Regions from separate parts of the Homo sapiens genome. Here regions 1 and 2 are each linked to region 3. The links come from fine-mapping of genetic effects on gene expression. A gene starts in region 3. Each other region holds a variant in brackets. All regions are shown on one strand. Distances are from middle to middle. Region 1 overlaps NT5DC1 (5'-nucleotidase domain containing 1). Region 2 has its middle 44 kb from the start of TSPYL1. Region 3 holds the start of TSPYL4 (TSPY like 4).

The links. PIP is the estimated chance that this variant, and not a neighbour inherited with it, causes the effect. A credible set is the group of variants that fine-mapping cannot tell apart.
Region 1: its variant is the best candidate, but not a certain one, in a credible set for the expression of TSPYL4 in lung (GTEx, PIP 0.80).
Region 2: its variant is the best candidate, but not a certain one, in a credible set for the expression of TSPYL4 in whole blood (TOPMed, PIP 0.77).

What each region holds. Positions count from the first base shown.
Region 1 is chr6:116,197,353-116,201,596 of GRCh38, reverse strand. The region is part of intron 6 of NT5DC1 (5'-nucleotidase domain containing 1); the gene reads right to left. It also overlaps a transcript of COL10A1 not described here. Among named protein-coding and RNA genes, the nearest start is that of TSPYL4, 55 kb to the left of the region's middle. The variant C/A (reference allele first, on the strand shown) is at 1,596.
Region 2 is chr6:116,321,350-116,325,593 of GRCh38, reverse strand. It overlaps a transcript of DSE not described here. Among named protein-coding and RNA genes, the nearest start is that of TSPYL1, 44 kb to the right of the region's middle. RefSeq lists enhancers at 1-232, 1,255-1,822. The variant C/T (reference allele first, on the strand shown) is at 2,148.
Region 3 is chr6:116,252,300-116,256,543 of GRCh38, reverse strand. It overlaps TSPYL4 (TSPY like 4), which reads left to right and starts at 2,469. Exons shown (of 1, transcript NM_021648.5): 1 at 2,469-4,244. The coding sequence starts at 2,536. The coding sequence ends at 3,780. It also overlaps a transcript of DSE not described here. RefSeq lists enhancers at 2,098-2,327, 2,738-2,897.

The DNA.
Region 1 (4,244 bases), 55 kb after region 3:
ATTAACCAAGACTTTTAATATCATCAGTAAACCTGACTCTGGCAAATGCTCACCTCACTGAAGTTCTCAGAACTGAAAAGCATTACCGAGGCAGTCCCATAAGTCACTGGTCTCATTAGGGAAATTTGATTGGTCAATTCTTCTCCACCAACGGATTACAGAACACTACTCTATATACTGGAGTGATTCTAAATTCAATTTCTGTAACAAACTATGTTCAAATACATACCTTTATACAGTGCAATATGCCCAGAATGAATAAACAATACTGTTCACTGAAATAAAGGTGGTGGGAATGACTTCCAATTACACAGTTAGTTATAATGGCTACAGCCAAAAAGGCAAGAGTATCATAGAGGTAACTAATTGTAGTTACCTATATTAAACTTTTTTATCTGCTCATGTATTGTCCCTCCAAGATTTTACATGTGGTGACTCATTCTGAAGGATCCCCTTATCTCACCTTCTTATTCTGCACACATCTAGGTGCAGTACCTCTTGGGCAAGTTGGTACTTCACTCCTATTGGGCAAGTTAGTACTTCACTCCTACTGGGCAAGTTGGTGCTGTGGGGTGCTACCATAGTACCTTCCCGCTTTTTTCCATTCCTCTTGAGAACAAAGAAACTAAACAGAGAACCTTTCAGACCTTGGTTAGAAAAAAGCACTGGTAAGTTGTAAGGCAGCTGTATTTCTGAGTGGGTGGGGGAAGAAGAAGGGAGCATATGTGGATTTCCTCAGAAGAAAAAGTAAACATGGTCTGCCACAGGATTTATGCCAAGAAGGTGAAGAACTGTTATGTGATATCCTTCAGTTTCTTTAGCTGGGAACCTGAAACTGCTCCAAGCTAGTGGGAGAAGAGATGAAGTACGATCCATAAGGACATTAAATATCACCCAGAGAGAGAAGTTGAGGAATGACTTCATGAATAGACTTTTAAAACTAAGGGAATTATATACCAGAGCTCGATAATATCCTTCTGGATAAAATAACCATTACTTATAATAGTGTCTTACCTTTATTTAGCTATGCTTTTTAAAATAAAATTTTAATTTTAGTAGTTTTAGATGGACAGAAAAATTACAAAGATAGTCCAGAGTTCCCATACACCTCACACTCAATTTCCCTATCAATATCTTTCAATATTATGGTACATTTGTCACAATTAGTGAAGCAATACCAATACATTATTATTAACTAAAGTCCTCACTTCATTTAGATTTCCTTAATTTTTACCTAATGTCTCTTTTCTGTGCCAGGATCCCATCCAGGATACCATATTACGTTTACTGGTTATGTCTCCTTAGGTTACTCTTGACCGTGACATAGTTTCAGACCTCCCCTGTTTTTGGTAACTTTGACAGTTTTATGGAGTACTAGTTAGATATTTTGTAGAATGTCCTTCAATTGGGATTTGTCTGACTTTTTCATTAGACTGGGTTATGTGTTATTGGGTGGAAGACCATGGAGATAAAGTGCCACTCTCATGTTATATTAAGGGTATATACTATTAAGGGTCACTGTTGATGTTGACCTGGATGATTTGGCCAGGACAGTATTTGTCAGGTTGCCCCACTGCAAAGTTACTCTTCCCCCC[C/A]CACTTTCCATACTGTACTCTTTGTAAGGAAGTACAATGCACAGGCTACCCTTAAGGAGTAAAAATTCATGCTCTACCTTCTTGAAGGTAAAATGTGTGCATAAACTATTTTGGAAATATTTTGTGTGGTAGATTAGTCTCTTCTCCCCATTTATTTACTTGTTAATCACTTATTTATACCAGACTCATTGATGGTTATTTTATACTCTGGGTTATAATTCCATACTACTTTATTTATTTTGTTCTCAAATTGTTCCAGCATTAGCCATTGGGAGCTCTATCCTTTAATTCCTGTGTCCCTTTTACACACCTCCATCATTGTAATTTTTAAAAAGCATTTATTTACTTCTGGCACTACAAGATGCTCTAGGTCATCTTGTATATTTCCTGCCCCAGGCCTAAAGTCAGAGATTTCTCCAAGGAGCCCTGGCTTCTAATACTGGAGAATGGCGTTAGAAACTAAGATCTGAGTGCTAGGTGACTTCTTTGTTTTTTAAAGATGCTTTTGTACATACATATTTCTCTTTCCACAACATTGATGACAGATAGGTAAACTAAGGCTTAGAGTAGTTAAAGGATTTGCTCAGTGCCAAGGCTAATAATAGCAGTGTTGGAATAAAACTCAGTCTTCTAATGGTAGTTCCCTGTCCTTTGACTATCTAATGTCTTCTGGATGAGAACACAGCATCAAAGACCAGATTAACAACCTATAAGAAAAGGAAAAAGGCACTTCCAGAAGATAGTCCTTTCAGAAGGTAAAATTTAATAGGCGTAACTGACAAACTCTCTTGTCTATCTAGAAGAAACAACTGGAGAGTCTGTCTTTCATGGAAAGATATTTTTATACATTACGGCTTTTGACTGAGGGTGATTTAGCTCCCCTCACCCCCCAGGGACATTTGGCAATTTCTGGTGGGTGGAGGGTGCTGCTACTACCATCTAGTGGATAGAGGCCAGTGATCTTGCTAAACATTATATAATGCACAGAACAGCTCCTCCAACAAAGAATTACCCAGTTCAAGATGACAATAGTGCTAAGGTAGCTAAAGGAATAAATACTAGAAGATTCTTCATCTAATTTACACTGTTTATATTCTAACTGAATTAGTTTTCTATTGGTGGCTATGAGGGATCACCATGGAAGACTCTGTCTCATTCTGTGACCTCATGAGTTAGCCTATCAGAAGAAAAAGTCCCCACTTTGGTTAAGAAACATGGCTCTCAAATCAGATAAGAGACTCCTGTAGTCCTTTTTTTAAAAAAATATTGTTTAGAGACAGGATCTTCCCCTGTTGCCCAGGCTGGAGTGCAGTGGTGTGATCGTAGCTCATAGGTAACTTTGAACTCCTGGGCTCAAGCAATCCTGCCTCAGCCTCCCAAGCAGGTAGGACTGCAGGTGCACACCACCAGATCTGGCTATTTTTAAATTTTTTTTCTAGGGATGAGGTCTCATTATGCTGTCCAGGCTAGTCTTGAACTCCTGGCCTCAAGTGATTCTTCTGCCTCAGCCTCCCAAACTGCTGGTATTATAAGCATGAGTCACTATACCCAGCCACCTGTAGTTCTTATGTATGGGACGAATAGAAGAAGGCATGCTCTTTAAACAAGCTGCTTGAGTCAAGCAGGGCATGAGCACAGTTACATATAATGGTCCTGAAAAGGAAAGGCCTATCTCCATATAAGCCATCATTTACTGGCCACATTGACTGTTTTCTGTTTCAGGATCAAGCTGTGTGGAATAGTTACGTGGCTTTGAATGAATGGGTGAACCTTACCAAGTAGATGGCTGTTACCCAGAAACTGTTGTTCACTACTCAGTGACCTCAATTTGGAGAGGAAGTGAGTGACTGAATCCCTATTTGTTGATGTGGTGACCACCCAGCACTTTGACAGGAGAAATAACCCTTTTATTTACCAGGATCTCTCTTGGAAGATTTAGAAAAAGCTTGCTCACTCTTGGCACTAGCAAGCTGATGAAGGACATTTTCTGAGCAAAGCTAGGTGCCCTGGGGCCATAAATTGCCACTGCCCTCTATGACAAAATTCAGAGAGCTTTGGTGGCAGCCCTATCTGGGGTGAAGCTATTTGTGGAGCTCCTAATGAAGTAGACATGTGTATATAAAGTAGTCAATGCACTGGCATGTCTGGTACATGTAAACGCTTCTCAATGGTAGCAAACATAAAGAAGAAATGTTTACCTAGCGCTTTCAATCCATCAGTCCTTGTGCTAAGTTCTTTATACATTATCTCACTGAATCTGCATAACATCCTATGAGATAAATACCATTATCAAGTTTATTTTCACATGTGGAACTTAAAAGTAATTGTGTCAATTGGCCAATGCTAAACAATCAAAAAGTAGAGATGGTATTTGAATCTCTAACAGTCTAACTCCGACATTTGGGTGCCTTCATTACTGTATTATACTGTCTTCTATCTGCACTACAGCAACTAAAATTATTGTTATTAACCGCTGTACCTGGCTGTTTGTTCTTAAAACTTGGGTGGCAGAGGTAAAAGGTGGTGAAGGTCAAGAATGTTGATTCTTGACCGGGAAGATTCTTCCCAGTATCTTCCAATGATTCAATTCTGCTTAGCATTTTAAATCAGACAAGATGATAATCAGAGACCTAGCAGAGAATCAAGGAC
Region 2 (4,244 bases), 69 kb before region 3:
TCTTAACTTGGCAGGAGAACACCTACCTACTACTCCAGTTGCAACACAGGACATTAGGTTTTATTAAAAAAATGATGAAAGTTGCAAGAAATCTGGGGATGAAGGCAAGATAGAAGATAAAAACAAATCATTTTGTACAATTCCTCTAATCCAAAAGGGAAGGAGCTCATATGTTTCTGATGATACCTACCTCAAGAACTAAAGAGCTGATGGAACTTTGGAGATTATGTATCATGCAGTACTCATCCTGGAGTGCACATCACAACTTGTGGTGGACATTTTTCAAAAATCATGCATGGTTTCACCCCAGACATGGGGAAGAAACATCTGAAAGTGAGGTCTTGGGACTTAGAAAATTTAGGCAACCATGAGTCTCACTCGCCAGGGTTTTTCTTTTGCAGAAAATCCACCTTTTCCCAGTGACTTGTGGGTTTGGAGGCTTTGGTGTCTGAAGGACTCCTATGATGCCACCAGACATGATTCGGGGTTAGCAGCCACCTGGTTCCAGCCTTTCCAAGGAGGATTGTTTCCACCCTGGGTGAACCAGTTAAACTCTGCTGCTTCCCAAAACACACCTAACCCCAGAGTGGGTGGTATGTGTCCCTAGCTAATCTCCAACTGTTATGCAAAGGAGTCATTAGCACTCCTTATCAGTGCCTCATAGTACAAATATAAAATGGGATAAACTCAGAGAAAACTTAAAAGCACAGACATAGGAGAGTGCACACAGGCAGAAATGGACTGCATGCATCCCCAAAAGGGTGAAACTCTCCCCCTATAATATTCTACTCATTATAAGGAACAGAGAAGTGCAGTGAACATCAATGCAATGGAAAGAAGTAGTTGAAATGGAAGCCTGTTCTTTCCTTAAGCTAACTCAGGCTCCTCGAGCTACCAATGAGAGGGGATAATGAACTTCCGGGTCACCTGGGTTGTTCTACCATTGCTGTTTAACAAAGCCAGCTCTCTTTGTATTTTACATATACCCCTGCACACAACCCTCAGAATCTCATGTAGGTTCCAAAGCTACGTACGCTGCAACTATCCTATTCTAAAGCAATTGTGCTTTCCCTGTCCTTTGTGTTGATGAAGATCTAAAACTCATGGAGTCAATTCAAACAGCTACAAGGGGGTGGAGTTGGGATTTCACCTGTGACTATTTGACTTCCAAACTCATATTCTTGTCAATAATCTAAACTGCTGCCTTCCAGCAGGTTACTTGTCCTAAGCTATTAAAGCAAACTGGGAAAAATAGTCAAAATACCTTTGCTTTCCTGGATCTTGCCTGCTGTTGTATATATCTTGGAGTTAGGCCAAAAACTGAGGAAAATCTGCCCACCTGCCAATGGCAAGCTGATGAAGTAAGATATAAGTGAAGTCTAATAAAATGATGGTGAAATTAGCAGGAAAGCCTACTAGCAGACATAGCTTTGGGACTTGTGTTTCCCACATGTTAATACGAAGAAAGCCCCTTTGGAGCCTGGGGTGAGGGGTAAGAGGGGGACCTATTAACTGCTGAATTCAGATCTCACAGGTGGGCACTTCCTTTTCTCTTTTGTCCTCTTACCTTGCCTCTGAGGGTTGTTAATGAGTTGTGGTTTGACTATGTGGGGCAGGTTTGACTAGGGGGCCCAGAAAAAAAGAGAAGAGTTGGATAAATCAGCCATTAAAAATATATCCTGGCTGAAGAAGGATGGTAGAAGTGGAGGGAAGATAATGGAAGAGGGAATGAGAAGAAAGGTATCAGGAAAGATGCACATGATCAGGCTAATGACCTGTTTTCCCCTTATAGAAACCATATACAAAATTAACTATAACTTATTGCCAACTTAATTTTTTCTCTTGGTGTATATTTTATACCTGAAATGCTATTAAACATATTTCTTACTTTTCTGTTAGATTTAAATTTTCAAAACTTTCTTCAGAATATTTAAAAATCTTTGTGTTGTTCATTACAAATCAAATGACATGAAATTCCATTACCCTTAGAACTAAAATGAGTAAAATAGATCATAATAATATAAAGGTTTTTCCTGGACACACTTTTCGATAAGAACATTTAAAAGCACATTTGTAGACAAAGCACACTATAGCACCTGGCTGCTAAACGAATGTCCAAGAAGTAATTATTATCTGCCTTGCTGCCA[C/T]TGAAAAGTTTTTTATTTTTCTGGCAAGTCAAATGTGAATCTCACTACTCAATAAAAAAATAGAAATCCAAATTAATTATTAGCTTAACAGTAGAAGAATCTAATAAGATTGAGTACAGTCGTGAAGAAACACAGTGAAAGATGTTCAGCTCTTATATTTCTCAGTATAGGATTTCTTACAAGGTAAATGACATGACATTGCTACAACTGAAAAAAATACATATTTTAAAGAAATCTGTTTAAAAGCTGGCTTACAACTGATGTGTAATTTTCACTTTACAAGGGAACTGGGAGAGAAATGTTTCCACTGACATCTTAAAGAATAACATTAACAAAACCAGACTTCAATTGTTGCAAATCTGGGATTCCATAATCACAGACCAGTAAAGCGCAAAATACTGTGAACCACTATCAGCTCTCTTTTCTGGAAGACCCTTATGCTCCCTGCATGGATAAATTATTTTCTGCAGGTGGTTAGGGGAGGACTTCCCACAGCCAGGAAGCAAAAAAATGCTCTCTACACTAACACTCCAACTTGCTCTACATGGAGTGCAGTGTCAAATCTGGGAAGTTACTCTTCTGAAACATTATTCTGCAGTCTCTTCTACCCTGCCACTTCTCTCTCTTCTCTCCATATTTAAACAGAAAATCTTGGTTGAGAGTCATTTACACATGCACATGGGCTGATTACATTTCAACAAATTGAAATCTCAGCTTCAATCACAGGTTTGCATTTAAATCTTATCACTGGTTGAGGAATGAAATACTTTTTCTTTATTTACTTTAAGCATCAACGAAATGATATATTTTAGGAAGAAGGCAATCAGAAACCTAAAAAATCACTCCAGGTTTATTCAACAGGTCCCAAAGGTAAATCTTATTTAATTGGGGTGGGGGGGCAGAAGTAATTTTGGGGATGGTGGGGAAGGAAAGGTTTGTCTAAAGACTCAGTGGCAGAGGCTCTGCTCCCTCTGGGAGGCTGGCTGAGGCCTACAGACCTTTGGGAACATCCAGGTCTTCATCTCTTTTATTTAACATCATATTCCACTTATTCTATTAAGGGAGGAGACCACCCCTCATATTGTCTTATGCCCAATTTCTGCCTCCAAAGAAAGAAAAAGTAAAAACTAAAAGGCAGAAATGAAATCCACAAGCAGACAGCCCGGCGCCACACCCTGGGCCTGGTAGTTAAAGATCGACCCCGACCTAATCGGTTATGTTATCTATAGATTACAGACATTGTATAGAAATGCACTGTGAAAATCCCTATCCTGTTTTGTTCTGATCTAATTACCAGTACATGTAGCTCCCAGTCACGTACCCCCTGCTTGCTCAATCAATCACGTCCCTCTCACACGCACCCCCTTAGAGTTGTGAGCCTTTAAAAGGGACAGGAATTGCTCACTTGGGGAGCTCGGCTCTTGAGACAGGAGTCTTGCTGATGCCCCCGGCCGAACAAACCCCTTCCTTCTTTAACTCGGTGTCTGAGGAGTTTTGTCTGTGGCTCGTCCTGCTACACTATCATGTGAAAAAATTGCGGCATGTTGATTGTCAGGTACTAGACGTACAGTAGTGAACAAAAAAGACAAAGTTCCTGCCCTTATGACACAGTATAGGGGAGAAGGCAGACACTACTTAAAGAACTGTAAATATTTGTTTGTTTATTTATTTTGAGATGGAGTCTCACACTGTCCACCCGGGCTGGAGTGCGGTGGCGCGATCTCGGCTCACTGCAACTTCCACCTCCCGGGTTCAATCGATTCTCCTGCCTCAGCCTCCCGAGTAGCTGGAATTACAGGCGCCGGCTAATTTTTTCTATTTTTAGTAGAGACGGGGTTTCACTATGTTTGCTGGGCTGGTCTCCAATGCCTGAACTCGTGATCCACCTGCTCGGCCTCCCAAAGTGCTGGGATTACAGGCATGAGCCACTGTGCCTGGCCAGGAACTGTAAATATAAGAAGAGTTTTTGTGGGCTGGGTGCAGTAGCTCATGCTTGTCAAATCTCGGTGCTTTGGGAGGCTGAGGCAAGAGGACTGCATGAGGCCAGGAGTTTTAGAACAGCCTGGCCAAGATAGCAAGACCCCCATCCCTACCAAA
Region 3 (4,244 bases):
TAAGTACGGTCATTTGCTGCATAACATTTTGGTCAAAGATGAACTGCATATACAAGTGTGGGACCATACAATTGTAATACTCTATTTTTACTGTATCATTCTTATGTTTAGATACAAAAATGCTTACCATTATGTTACAAGTGCCTACAGTATTCAGTACAGCAACATGCTGTTCAGGTTTGTAGCCTAGGAGCAATATGATATACTATTTAGCTTAGGTGTATAGTAGGCTATTGCAGCTAGGTTTGATAGATGTACTGTATGATGTTTCCATAATGACAAAATCCCTGTCATTCAGTGAAACGTAACTGTACTAAGTTGGATAGTAAAAGTCATAAGGGCTATACAGAAATCAGAAGACTGTCAAAATGGCAAGTAATTAAGGAAGGAGGTAAAGTAATAAGGTGGGAGGAGGCAATCTGCCAATTAATACATATGTGACCATGGGCATGTTAACTGCTCTGTGCTCACTGGGTCTTTGTTTATAAAATCTAATGTATTTAAACTGCCTAGTACAATCTACATGAACTGAGTGTTAAAGAATGGCCAGGTGGTTATGAGTGAAAAATGATTCAGGTGACAGAACTAATACAGGCTAGAGATGGGAATGCTTTGAGTAGTAGAGATATAAATCTTTAAAAAACTTTGGCACACACAAAAAGAAAAAGAAGTTCACATGTAATTTTATACTTTTCTATAAATTTGTATAGTAGCAAACTTGTTTTTTCCTGCTGCATGGAAAAGTAACTTTCATTCAGTATTCCCTGCTTCTCTTCATCTTGACTCAGGTTATAATGGAAAAGTTACTCTTTCAACAGTGCAAAGGTTCTTTGGAAAAGAAACAGAGCAGTGTCAATAATTCAAAGTCACAAAGTCAATTATAGCACGCTGTTTATGTGTTTACAAAGACGATACCTCAATAGATTGATTTCACCCCACAAATAAAAAAAGAGCGTTTATTAAGACAAAGAGGAAAGAGGGAGAGAAAAATAATTGCTCTCTGCTGTGTGAATCTTGTTTGCATATTTCTTATGGGATAACTGATTAGCTGGCAGGCAGTAAAGAGGTCATTCTGGACACATTGTCCTTGGGTAGGCTGACTAGGCATACAAAAAATCCTGCAAGGCAGGCTGTTTCTCCGTATTGTCTGCCAGTGACCTTTCATCAGTACTTTATCTTAGTTGAACCAGAACTACACTCCTTCCCTCGCTAGAAGTCTCAGTATATATGATGTATTCCTCTAAGAGGAATCCTTTTTCTCTAAATCTGTACTTCTGAGCCTGTATTTGAAAGTGATCATAATCTGGGGGGCTTAAAATGGAGTTTCTTTTACAAAGAGTTATAATCATAACCGTTTATTTGAATATAAATTTGACATTAAACATAAATATGCAAAATTTAAATTTCCCTTTGGTCTTGCATTTTTCTAAGGATTAACACCATTATTCTCACACTCCAACAAACTAATATATTGTACTGATAATCACTATCAAATGAATTGTAAGAGCTAACTGACTCGAATAGACAATAACTAACCTTACTTTTAAAGTATTTTAAGAGACAGTAGCATAGATGCCTGCACATAGCTGATTATTGCTCCTGTGCTGCAGTGAATTACCACATGAACACATTTTGAAAAGATTTGTTAGCTTCATGTCCACAGGCATTATGAAGCAGGAACCACTTTTAGATTAAGATTGTAACCTGAGGAAAAGAACATATGCATCAGTTTAGAAATTAAAATCCCCTGAGATATTTCTTTCAGTAATGCTTAAAAGCCTAAATTTGTGCTCGTGTGCCAGTCACCTCTACGTAAGGAAAAACATTTTGCTACTCTTTGTTAAAAGTGAAGAGGAAATATTGTCCACTTGTTTTGTAGATGTTGGCCAAATTATATAAACTTTAAAATCTGTAAGACAAATTGAAATATTCCTTTATTATGTCTTGTTAGGATGAGAGAAGTTTGCCTTTCAGCTGCTCCTTAATTTTAAAAATAACAACACAGCAACACTTCTCTTTAAAATCAAACTCTGCTCATTTAAATTCTTTGGTAATAGCCATGAATCCACACCTTAAAAGAAGGAAGGCCTGTGAGTTCGTGAATCCACTTTCCTACTCAGGAGAAGCCCTATGAACTGACTTGAATAGACAGTAACTCACCTTAAAGTAAATATTTTCAGAAACAATAGGTTAGGTGCCTTAGAAATTCATTCAGAGGCTTAGAAATCCACATTAACACAGTTCTTACATGCTTGAGTCTGGTCTACATCCATTTACGTAAGTAAAACTCCCCTTCCAGACTGACGAAATTCTTTTTGTGACAAGAAGACAAAGGAATACGATGGATTGATAAGCGTAGTCAACCGCGCAGAGAGTTCTCGCGCGATGTTACGACGCTACCGCCCTGACATCACCAGTTGCCATGGTAGCACCGCCGAGAGTAAAGGAGGGGTGGTGCTAGACGTTTCGGGCAGAGCTCGGCCGCTGCGGAGGACAAGGAACTCTCCCTCTCCCACTAGTCTGACTTCTTCCAAAATGAGCGGCCTGGATGGGGGCAACAAGCTCCCTCTCGCCCAAACCGGCGGCCTGGCTGCTCCCGACCATGCCTCAGGAGATCCGGACCGAGACCAGTGCCAAGGGCTCCGTGAAGAAACCGAGGCGACACAGGTGATGGCGAACACAGGTGGGGGCAGCCTGGAGACCGTTGCGGAGGGGGGTGCATCCCAGGATCCTGTCGACTGTGGCCCCGCGCTCCGCGTCCCAGTTGCCGGGAGTCGCGGCGGTGCAGCGACCAAAGCCGGGCAGGAGGATGCTCCACCTTCTACGAAAGGTCTGGAAGCAGCCTCTGCCGCCGAGGCTGCTGACAGCAGCCAGAAAAATGGCTGTCAGCTTGGAGAGCCCCGTGGCCCTGCTGGGCAGAAGGCTCTAGAAGCCTGTGGCGCAGGGGGCTTGGGGTCTCAGATGATACCGGGGAAGAAGGCCAAGGAAGTGACGACTAAAAAACGCGCCATCTCGGCAGCAGTGGAAAAGGAGGGAGAAGCAGGGGCGGCGATGGAGGAAAAGAAGGTAGTGCAGAAGGAAAAAAAGGTGGCAGGAGGGGTGAAAGAGGAGACACGGCCCAGGGCCCCGAAGATCAATAACTGCATGGACTCACTGGAGGCCATCGATCAAGAGTTGTCAAACGTAAATGCCCAGGCTGACAGGGCCTTCCTTCAGCTTGAGCGCAAGTTTGGCCGCATGCGAAGGCTCCACATGCAGCGCAGAAGTTTCATTATCCAGAATATCCCAGGTTTCTGGGTTACTGCCTTTCGAAACCACCCCCAGCTGTCACCTATGATCAGTGGCCAAGATGAAGACATGCTGAGGTACATGATCAATTTGGAGGTGGAGGAGCTTAAACACCCCAGAGCAGGCTGCAAATTCAAGTTCATCTTTCAGGGCAACCCCTACTTCCGAAATGAGGGGCTTGTCAAGGAATATGAACGCAGATCCTCTGGCCGGGTGGTGTCTCTTTCCACTCCAATCCGCTGGCACCGAGGCCAAGACCCCCAGGCTCATATCCACAGAAACCGGGAAGGGAACACTATCCCTAGTTTCTTCAACTGGTTTTCAGACCACAGCCTTCTAGAATTCGACAGAATTGCAGAGATTATCAAAGGAGAACTGTGGCCCAATCCCCTACAATACTACCTGATGGGTGAAGGGCCCCGTAGAGGAATTCGAGGCCCACCAAGGCAGCCAGTGGAGAGCGCCAGATCCTTCAGGTTCCAGTCTGGCTAATCTCTGTCCTGTGAGAAGCTTCTGCACAAGTTTCCTTACCACCTCCTCTTGGACCTATGCTTGGCCAACAGCATGCAGTCTTCCATCTGCTTTCTCTTCATACTGTGGATTATCTTTTCCTTTGGTTCTAAATCTTCAGTAATCGGTTGCAAGATTGTTGGCTTACCTGCCTGTGCCATTCTTCCTCTGGGCCTTCATGCTTTTCTGCATTGTGTTAACATGTTTCAAGTGCATGGCCTTCTACGGCTTCTATGCCAAGCGTATGATACTATAGATATAGTGTACCATACTGCCTTTCTTTGCATGGCTTGGACCCTATCTGTGACCATGCTCTTCTCCCAATTTAAGTGGTTCTGTACCACAAAGAATCTTGATACATTTTCACAAATAACTGATTGGGCTTCATACTTTATGCTGGCTGTGTCCTGATACCCATGTACTTATGGTAAGCTATTTGGGTATTA